2 linked regions of the Homo sapiens genome follow. The protein of the gene in region 1 interacts with the protein of each later gene in a biochemical or structural test. Each region holds a gene or a part of one and is shown in the gene's direction. Other genes may lie near its edges.

The links.
Region 2: the proteins of CNOT6L (region 1) and TNRC6A form a complex in vitro, tested with the Homo sapiens proteins (one study listed by BioGRID).

The regions. Positions count from the first base shown.
Region 1 is NC_000004.12:77,724,869-77,732,447, reverse strand, and holds part of CNOT6L (CCR4-NOT transcription complex subunit 6-like), read left to right. Parts: intron 1-909; coding exon 910-1,061; intron 1,062-3,366; coding exon 3,367-3,594; intron 3,595-6,078; coding exon 6,079-6,281; intron 6,282-7,579. UniProt on the Homo sapiens protein: Has 3'-5' poly(A) exoribonuclease activity for synthetic poly(A) RNA substrate.
Region 2 is NC_000016.10:24,823,217-24,826,863, forward strand, and holds the end of TNRC6A (trinucleotide repeat-containing gene 6A protein), read left to right. Parts: intron 1-215; coding exon 216-591; 3' UTR 592-3,002; downstream 3,003-3,647.

The DNA.
Region 1 (7,579 bases):
CAAGACTATGTCTTCTCTCCACTGAACACCTAGTGCAAGTAATGTATTTAGTAGGTTTTGATTACTTATAAATATTTCACAAATTAATAAAATTAGACTGAAAAAGGTTAAATGACTTCACCAACATCCCACTGCAATTAAATGTCAGCACTAAACCAATTCTATTAAATCCTACAACTCTACAATGCTTAATAATTTGGCATTAATGAAGGAAAGAAAAAATTATTAGTGCAGAAGCTATAATCACAGAGAGAGTCATTTCTTCATCTTGCAGAATCTGTTTCTCAGAATACTTATACCCCATTGCAACTTTCTAGTAAAAGTCAGATGGAAAAATCAGTTACTCTTTAGCTGAGATAAAGGTGTGCCCCTGTATTTTGTTGACAAATATCTTGATGTGGTAGAAATAAAACTACAAACAGGGTAGGTGGATTGTATTCTTTTTATCTTTTTCTCATTAACTTAGTTGAGATTGTGTGCACCTTTAAATACCAGAAAATTCTAGCAGTAGCTTAAACAAATGAGGGAAGGGTGATTTTCTCACACAAGAAGTCCAGAAATAGGCAGTCCAGAACTGGTTCAGCTGCTTCCCCATTTTTAGAAGGTTGGCTTTTGCCTTCCTGCTTCTTATTTCATGGTCACAAGATGGTTATTATTTCTCCGAGCACTAGCTGTAAGGGGCAAGGTATAAAAGCATGAAGGGATATATATGCTGTCTTTGTTAGGTGGGGCCTCTGAGAAACTTTTTACAATAATCAGACTTCTTGTGTCTTAGTGGCCAGAACTGTATCACATGGTCACTTGCAGCTAGAAAATGACAAGGGAGACAATGCATGTCATGTTTCTTTCATTTAATATCTTTCAGCATGATAGTCTAGGTACCTAAAATTATAATAATGTACCTTTTAGATTTACATTGGTGCAGAAGCATACAGTGGAATTTAACCAAGTGGCGATGGCTAATTCAGATGGATCCGAAGCTATGCTGAACAGAGTGATGACAAAAGATAACATTGGTGTCGCTGTGGTATTAGAGGTCCACAAAGAACTATTTGGAGCAGGTGAGTGCAATGTAAAATATTCTTACTAAAAATAAACACCATCCCAAGTTTTTCCATCTCAAAACAAGTGAAGAGAATTTTGCCGTTATTTATTGCAAAGTTATTTTCTTTTGAGGAAAGTTAAGGGAGATGGGCAGGAAAATAGCACCATTGTGTAAAGCATCATATATTTGTTGGGATATTTTGTGCTCTCTATCACAGTCTTTTTTACTTACCAGATAATCTATGTAAAGTCTTTTTTAATATGCCATTAATCCCAAACAGTTCTTTTAAATAGGGAATATTTTGGTTAGGCTGAATTTAGAAATTATGATGACTTGGCCCTCTTTTTGAATTATATTTTTAGCTTGAGTGTGATTCTTTTGTCTTTAAGGTTAAGGACTTGGCACATTTCCTCTAGTTTCTTTGTTATATCTCAGTCATTGTCAGGGTAAGAGCAGGATCTTTTATCTACATGGTACTTACTTTAGCATTTTAGATTATTTATAGCTTCCTTCAGAGTCAGAAACTCATTATGTACTTCATACACAGACCTTTTTTATCCTTCTTACTGCCTGCCTTTGAGCATCTCACTGTTTACTAGTACATTTTAAGCAAGAAAGGAGTGAGACTACATCAGGGCTTTTTTTCCCCTGTACTTTTTGTAGAGGAAAAGATTATTTTGGACTAGAGTATTGATTTGAATTATTCAGACCATGCATATGTGTCAAACCTTCTTTTCTCACCATACTTCAATTTATTCCTTATCAAAGGTAATCTTTGATATGAAATTTTGGACTTTTTACTTTTCTTAGCCCCTCCGTTTTTATTTACCTTTATGTCCTTTACAATCTTATTCTTCCCAAAGTTTGGTACTTTTTTTTCTGATATTGTGGAGAATATCTTTTGGAGTTTTACTCCTCTTTTAATTTGCGGAAGAGTAATTCTAAATAGTAGAGACTTTTACGTTCTGAAATACATATCTCTTGTACTCATAGAAGGGGAATTTAGTAATATAGTGCTTATGGCTCTTTGAAGGGGAAAATTTTTAATATTGTGAATACTTAATCTATAGCTAAAAGTGACACTGTAAAACTGGGAAAAGAAGATCGCTTAGAAGATTTGGCTACAGACATTTATGATCAAATTGCTTTTAAGGTGACTATGTCAGATATAACAGATACTTCAGTTTCTTATTTTCTCAACATTGAAGATAATTATAGCTTGGTGAGACTGGAAAGAAACTTTAACAAACTAGTAGACTTAGAAAATTAGGTCTTTTCCCCCAAAGCTTATATTCCAATAGAAAAATTTGAGACGCTTCTATAGAAATTATAAAAGAAAAATTAAATTTGTATGTTTACGGATAGTCCAATGGTTTAAAGGTATGTAAAGTAAAAAGTGAGAGATCCCTCATGTCATTCATACTCTAGATTATAGCTCTTGTTGATTTCTCTATAGAGTTACTAACATACAGAATGTGAGTATATGTATTAATAGTTTTATATCTTGAATATTTTATGGACATCTGTCAGTAAATGTTAACTATGTTTAATTTTCAAAAATCTTAATGTATTCCATCTACCATTTGGAAAGTACTATGTTAATGTTTATTTTAACAGAATTAAAAAACATAGAATTATAGGAATAAAAAAAAAACCTTAGAGATATTCTAGTTGAATATTTCACTTCCCAAAAGAATCTGGTTAAATTACTGACCCAAAACTACATAAAATAATTAGTAAGAAAGCCAAGTCTAAAACCCACGTGTCCAGACTTTTATAGCACACTACTCTCTAATTCTGATTTTAAAAATAATGTTATTTCGGTATATGGTGTGAATTTGTTCAGGTAGCAGATGACTTTCTTATTTTATCTTATATAGGTTAATATAATTTACTGCCTTTACTGCTGACCTATCACAGTTGTGCTGTGTTGTGCTTGGGAAATGCAAGGTGAATGAGTACTAGACAGTAGTAAGAATTTAAATTGAGGTTTAGGTAACTCAACTGAAAACCTGCCTTACTACATTATTGTGCTATTTAAATGACAGATATTTAAAGGGCTATACCAAATTTGTGGGCCAGATTTAGCCCATGGGCTACAGTTTGCCAACTTGATCTAGGAGAGTAATTCCCATAGTAGGATTACCAGAATCTCAGCCCTTTAGCTTCTAAGAATTACTTTATGAGATAAAAGGGAAGTTATAAATTCATGGAAAAGAGTAAAGAAGTAGCTGTGGATCATATTGAGAAAACCTGAGGATGCCACATTTCTTCAAACATAAAGCATAACTTTGTCTTCTTTTTGTAATGTTTAAATTTAGGTATGAAGCCTATTCATGCTGCAGACAAACAGCTGCTTATAGTGGCAAATGCCCACATGCATTGGGACCCAGAGTATTCTGATGTGAAGCTCATCCAGACCATGATGTTTGTCTCAGAGGTTAAAAACATTCTGGAGAAAGCCTCTAGTAGGCCTGGAAGCCCAACTGCAGATCCTAATTCCATCCCGCTGGTGCTATGTGCAGATCTTAACTCATTGCCAGATTCAGGTATTTATAATATCATTTCCTCACTGCTTTCAATTTCACTTTTACTCTTGGTTCAAAGGCCAGCTAGCTCCTAAATTTTGAGTAGATAAATTAAGGAATGTATCATAAGAATTCCATGGATGGGACACAAGGTAATAGAAGAGAGTTTAATAAAGAAGCTATTACCAAAGGTGTTGCCTGGTTTAAGGGAAACAAAGCAATAAATGATGCAGTACTCTGCCACTAGGGGATTTAGTAATAGATCTCTTTACCACTCCTCTACCTAAAAGGGAAAGTGGTGGGAGCTGTCTGTCATTAGAACTTGGAAAAAATACAGTTGTAGGAAAGGGCCACATAATAGGAGTGATGGCTTTGAATTGCATGAAGCGGTCAATCCCTGGCAAACCAAAAAGAAGGGAGCCAGGGAAATATATATTCTTACCTCACTCTGCTTCTGTCCTTTCATCTCCTGCTAGGCTGCCCATTGATCAAATCCAACCAAAAGCTAGAGCGGGGAGGGATTTGCAGTTGATGCAATAAAGATCAGCTGCCTGAGGCACAGAGTGTACTGCAGAAGGGTGATCTGAAGGGGCAGCCAGAAAATATTCATTACGTGTAGCTCTCTAGTTTAATAATGTTAGCAACTTTTAAGTGAATTCATTAAATGATATTTGGATAATGTTAGTAGTTACAGAAGAATGATCAAAATTATCCTAGGGCTTCATATTACTTCTTGAGCTCCACTAAACTACTTTATGTCTGAACTTTTATCATTTTACTTTTTATAAAAATAATTTCTGCATTTTAGGTATCAAATGGAAAACATTAGACTATTACTCTTTTGCCAATACCAAAGCATATGCTAAATTTTGTATATTATCACTGCTAGGCTATTTTAAGTTATTTAAAGTAAGTAACAATAAGGTTACTATAAGATAACCTAAATGCCTACACTTGGAATATTAAAAAAAAGTCACTGAACTTGAAAACATCTTTTTCTTCTTAGCAAATAATGCTGAAATCATTGTTTATAAGTGTTTGTCTTTAACCCCTAGCCTAATTGGCACTTTAACCACATGCTCCTTTCTTAATCCTTTCTTAAGTTGAATTACTCTCAAGTGCAAGTTTTTCTCCCATTGTATTTGATTTGTTAAAACCAGTTAGTTGTCATTTGGCAACACAACATAGTGAAATGACTTTGGTACCAGACTGTCATGGTTGGATCCTGATTTTGCTACTTATGAACTATGCAATCTGTGACTAAGTTCCTCATTTTTCCTTTTTTTTTTTTTTTTTTTTTTTTTTTTTTTTTGAGACAGAGTTGTGCTCTTGTTGCCAAGGTTGGAGTGCAGTGGTGCAGTCTTGACTGCAACCTCTGCCTCCCGGGTTCAAGCAATTCTCCTGCCTTAGCCTCCCAGTAGCTGGAATTACAGGTGCATGCCACCACGCCCAGCTAATTTTTGTATTTTTAGTAGAGACAGGCTTTCACCATGTTGGCCAGGCTGGTCTCGAACTCCTGACCTCAGGTGCTGGATCCGCCCACCTCGGCCTCTCAAAGTGTTGGGAGTTTTACAGGTGTGAGCCACCGCACCCAGCCTAGTTCTTCATTTTTAACAAGGGGGGAATCATGTTATCTACTTCATAGAATTGTGAGATTTACATGAATAAAGCACTTAGAACAGTGCCTGGCATGTAGCAAATACTAGACAAATGATAGTGCCTTCTGAGCTATTTACAATACTGATATTGTGCTTATCACACATTCATTATATCTTACTATCAATCCTTATTACAAATAGAAAGATGACTCTAACAGTGCACTAATCATCATAAGGGTTTTGATACTGTTTTCATGTTTGCTAATTCAGTGGAAGCAGTGCACTTTTCTGAATGCTATTCTTCTCTTCAGCCTTGTATTTTTAGCCAAGTGGTATACTTCTGGCATATAATATGCTTTATAGTGTCAGACTGAGAAAACTCACTCTAGCTCAAAATAAAGAATGATATTGTCTAGCTGACATTAGACATTGAAATGTTGAAGATGCAAAATCTGTTTTTGTTGTAAACTATTTTTATTAATATGCTCTACTTATATATTCGCAAAGTTGTTGATTGCTTAGAATGGGGAAATACTAAAGAGATAGTGGTTTGGAATAATTTTCCAAAAACATTTAGGGTTAATACCTTCCTGGTGAATGCCATCCTAGGTCCTGGAAATCATCTTTAGCCTGAAAAACCACTAAGAAAACTAAGGATATCTTTGAGTGTTCCTGATATATTTTGTTCTGAAATAGGCAAACATCCTTTGATTCATTTGCTTGACTCATATGAAATGGCTGGTATTTGATTTTTTATTTTTAAACAACAACAAAAGGCAGTTTTATATGGCTCAACCTAAGAAGACCACTCTGAGCCTGGTGGATTAACCTGGTAACAAGTCTTGGCTGTGAAGCCTTGTGTAAGGTCTAAATGCTAAATGGAAGTGTCTCTTCTTTATTCTACCAGGTGTTGTGGAATACTTAAGCAATGGAGGAGTAGCTGACAACCATAAAGACTTCAAGGAACTAAGGTACAATGAGTGTCTTATGAACTTCAGCTGCAATGGAAAGAATGGAAGCTCAGAAGGGAGAATCACACATGGCTTCCAACTTAAGAGCGCCTATGAAAATAACTTGATGCCTTACACCAATTACACCTTTGATTTCAAAGTGAGTGGCAGCCTTTGGGCAGGTGTAGAAATTATTTCAGATACAAGCATGTAACAAAAAAGGTGTAAATTCTTTATGATTAATTGTATAATCTTCAGGAATTTTTAGATTCTTAAAATGTCTAGGCTAAGTATGCACCTAAATATAAGTAGGTTTATTGGGTTTTGTGGCTATTGTTGTCTTAAATTCTTCTTGCTCTCTTGCTTGTTTAGATTTCAAATAATATAATAACAAAAACTTCTAAAATGCTCACTAGGTACCAGGCACTGGTCAAAGCACTTTGTATATATCAATATAGTTAACCCTCACCTGCTCAAACCATCCCTAACTTTCAGCAGTAACCTCCCTCCCCTAACCTCCCGCCCCCCACAGAAAAGCACCGAATATAGCAAAACTCACTTTGAATGAATTTATATAGTATTTTCTCAAGATTTTCTTTCTACTTTCCATTGATATCTTAGTATCTTTAAGTTTTTCAGGTTATTTTTGGGTATGGGGTTAGAGCAGGTTGTACTTTGGTTCTACTTTATATCTGTGTATTTATACTAATATATTCCTAGGCAGTGGGACACTCTAAAAGGAAAAGAAAGACATTTTTTGACAAATATGAAAAAAAATGGAAAGGCTGATTGTACAGGACCAGCTATTCTTTAGAAAGACAGATTGTGGTGGCTTTATGTAATCTCTTTCCCAGTGCTAGTTTTCTGATCACTCTGTGTACCTGTAGCTCTGCTATTATACCTCTCTTTGACTTTCTGGCATTTCAGGCATCTATAGTAGAATCTTATACTATCTGGAAAAATCCAAGTGTTAGAAAGTGGTTTGGTATAAGAAGCCTAGAGGAAATTTAATAAAATACCAAAGGAAATTTACAAATGGCCTCCCTTATATTTCCAATAACCTTTTTCTATTTTTGTGTGGGTTAGCTCCTGTCCAAGAAACAAATAGGAGGAAGAAAAGAAATTCGTGTGTTGTTACTAATCAGCTTTCATAATCATGAAGAGAAAAAAAATTGCTTAGAAATTGAATCTAATTTAGTATTTTTGCTATTAGAAAAGATAATTCAATCCAGCGATAGTTCATTTTGTTCCAGCCACTTGTATGTAGTGATGTGCTGGTAAATATTTAATAATGAGCTTTTTGGGAAAAAGCTCTGATTTGTGGTGTTTGCCGATTTCTGTGGTTTAAGTACTTCTGTAGCAGAATCCTATCTTCCAACATGATACCATTGAACATAGAGTTGGGAAGAGGTGCTAAGAAAGCTAGCACTAGCTGACTCTAGCACATCATTGCTTTTA
Region 2 (3,647 bases), on another chromosome or scaffold:
GACAGAGGAAGTTCGCTCTGGGCAAGGCACCAGGCCCTGGAGAGCTGTGGGTGCACACTCGGGTGAAGGGAGGGCACGCAGGTTATGTGGTGTAGTCTCTCCCTCTGTGCCTTCTGTGGCTTTTCTAGCAGAGACAAGTTGCACCCTCACTTGTGAGTGAATGAAGCCCTCCTGGTGTGCTGTCCTCACGTGTCCGCGGTGCCTCTCTCCTCTAGGTGTGTACTGGGGAACACTACTATTCTTGCTGAGTTTGCCAGTGAAGAGGAGATCAGTCGTTTCTTTGCACAAAGCCAGTCTCTGACCCCTTCTCCCGGCTGGCAGTCTCTCGGGTCCAGCCAGAGCCGGCTGGGCTCCCTCGACTGTTCCCACTCATTCTCCAGCCGGACCGATCTCAATCACTGGAATGGTGCTGGGCTGTCGGGAACTAACTGTGGAGACCTTCACGGCACTTCACTCTGGGGGACCCCGCATTATTCCACAAGCCTGTGGGGTCCCCCAAGCAGCAGCGACCCCCGAGGAATTAGCAGCCCATCTCCCATTAACGCTTTTCTTTCTGTTGACCACCTGGGTGGGGGTGGAGAGTCCATGTAACAGTGTAGATGCAGACTCACCGACCGGGACCTCAGACGCGAGGGAAAGGAGCACTAAGTGGGGCTCGCCGCCTGCAGCCAGGGGCCGCCTGTGGGAACAGCTATTCTCTGCACATTTTCCACTTTGTTTTCCCCAAAACATATCAGTTTGAATACTTGAATCATGCAGGCCAATATTATAATGTGAAAAGGTATCTACTCTATTTACACTCCCAAATAGCGCCATACATGCTAAACCGTAGAGAATGAGCTCGCTTGTGTCTATTCATCATGTTTAGCCTTTGGATTCTTTTTTTTTTTTTCCTTCTATTCCTCCCCAACCCCCCCCCCCGCCCCTTTTTTTCTCTCTTGCAAAACCATTTTTTGGGCTGATAACGTATGAGCTTTTCCCTTTGCACTGAATGATGTTCTCTCCGTCTCATCGGCAGTATGGGGGGCAGCTGTCCCAGTGTCAATGTTTACTCAAGGGTGTTCTTAGGAGGCGTGCGCTCTCTACTATGCCTTGATGTTGCCTACCTTATTGTGGTATCGTGGAGTTTAAAAGATCAAGTTAGGATGCTGACTTAGGATTATTAATGAAAGTGTTGCACCAGTTTTTTCATGTTGTAAAACTAAAGAATTTCGCTCTGCAGTTTGAAAAACTGTGGCCACAGCTGTGACTTGCAGCCCACCTGCCACCCAGGACGGGCCCTGCACTTTGAATAGGCTTTCCATTTTGTTTTGGAGGTTCTCACTTTGAACCTTCTTGTTTACAGATTTTTTTGTTTGTTTTTTGAGAAAAAAAAATGTTTACTCTTCCATCATTTAAAAAAAATGTAAAAGACAAAAAAAAAATGGAGGATGATTTAAAAGATGCTTTCTATCTCTGGGAAAAAGGAGCAGCATTTGGCCATGTTCTTTTGTTTTTCTATTCCTGTCCCAAATCAAAGAGCATGGTTCTCAGGAAAACCAGTTCCCCAGTTTAAAAAAAAAAAAAAAAATTCCTTGTAGTTTCTTAGAGGAAAAAAAGAAAAACCCCAACTTTTAGCACTGATACTACATATTGCTCTGTTAAAGAATTTTCTCTGCCAAAAAAAAAGAAAAAACAAAAAAACGCTTAAAGCTGGAGTTTGACATTCTGCTTTCAGATGCTGTCTTTTTATTAGTGAGTGATGATGGTTTGCTAATAATCAATAGGTAATAATTTTTTGTAATCCCATCAAGTGGCTCCATATGTTTCTGCTCTCTCGTGACTGTGTTAATGTTTAACTGTTGTACCTTAAAGCCGAAATCAGTAACTATGCATACTGTAACCAAGGTATTGGGCTTACAGAGTTGTTTGTTGTATAAAGAAAATTTTAAATGTTGTTGCAAACTAACGAGTTACACCATTTTAAACTTTCTTTCCTCCCCCCTTTTTTTGCCCACAAATGGTATTATAATGCTTGCTTAGTCAAAGAAGAGAGACTAAACAAGGGTAAAAATTTTAACAGTACAGAATTTGCCATCATATCATTGCCTTGATTCTAACTGTTTGTGTCCTAAGATGCAAAAGAAGTCAGTGGCTTTTAACTGTTTACAAATAGAATGTGATTGTAAAATGTACAGTTTGGTTGTGTTTGAATTATGAAATTTCTTCAGATATAATAAACCATGACTTTTTGGCTGCTCAACATTAATTGTCTCCTTTTTGTGAATTTATTTGTAGGCTCTTTTTTATAATGAAAGTTTCAAAGTTGCTATGTATGAGGGTTCTCATAGAGCAACCGATTAAAAATCTAAGCAAATATTTGAACATTTTATCTGAACTCATCACAATTTCACCCTGAAATAATGTGAGAACAATGGGAAACTGTAGCTTGCTCCTTCCCACCCTCTCTGAGCATCTTTGGGATCTTGTTGCTCAAAACTCTTCTGTGACTTCATCTTCCCCACCATTTGTGCCCATCTCAAGCCTCAGCAAGAAACCATGTGGAACATGAAGCTTAATGACTTGACAGTGTACTAGTGTTAAACTCTCATACCTCTGTTACAAAGCGAGAAACGCCACACCCGGACTGGCCTTTTCTTCCCCCTTCACGGCCCTCGCTTCTCCCTGCAGGAGCTCGGGGGCGAAACCTGTGTATGGATTTCAGTGTATGACTTCAGATCATGCTCCAACTTGCCAGGTGTGAGCTAATGTTGTCGGACACCTTACTATAAGCAAATGTTATTCAGTGCGTTCAATGTATATTGACTTCCATACTGGTTTTTCCAAAAACCAAAGGTAGCTTTGAAAAACCATGTCTGGAAATGTTTGGAGCGTTAAGCTGATTGACCTTCTGACCTTGGGGCTTTGAGTAGTATATAATTCATAACTGCGTTAATTGTATTGTTAAAGTGTTTGGGAGTTTTTTGCGCTTGTTATGTGGAAATAAAGTGTTTGATTTAAAATTTTTTAAAGTGGTTTGGATCTTTGCCTAGTCCTTAAATAAATACAGCTCTATTCCCTAAGCCACCCTTACTTCTCGGTCTTAATCCCGACTGCCAGTGCCTGGATGCTGCCCTTTGTCTGGCACAGACCTGCAGCTGACCATGCTGGGCCCATGGCTCGGGGCTTTCTAGTCACGCAGAGCCACCAAGAGTCAGGGTAAACTTTTTAACACAGGCACTTAACACGTTTTTTCTTTGTTTTCTTTTTTCCTTTTCTCTTTCTACTTTCTTCCTTTTTCTTTTTTCTTTCTTTTTCTTTCTTTTTTTTTTTTTCTTTCGACAGGGTTTCACTCTGGATATCAGTTCACTGTCACCTCTGCCTCCCAGGCTCAAACGGTTCTCGTCCCTCAGCCTCTCAAGTAGCTGGGATTACAGGCACCTATCACCGAATCCGGCTAAGTTTTGTATTTTTAATAGAAATGGGGTTTCACTGTGTTGCTCAGGCTGGTCTCAAATTCCAAAGCTCAAGCGATCTGCCCATCTCAGCCTCCCAAAGTGCTGGGATTACAGGCATGAGCCACTGCGCCTGGCCTCAGGCATTTACACATTTTCAAATATCCCTCCTTGCTCTGCTCCCCTGGGTGTGTTCCCAGCTCTAATGAACCT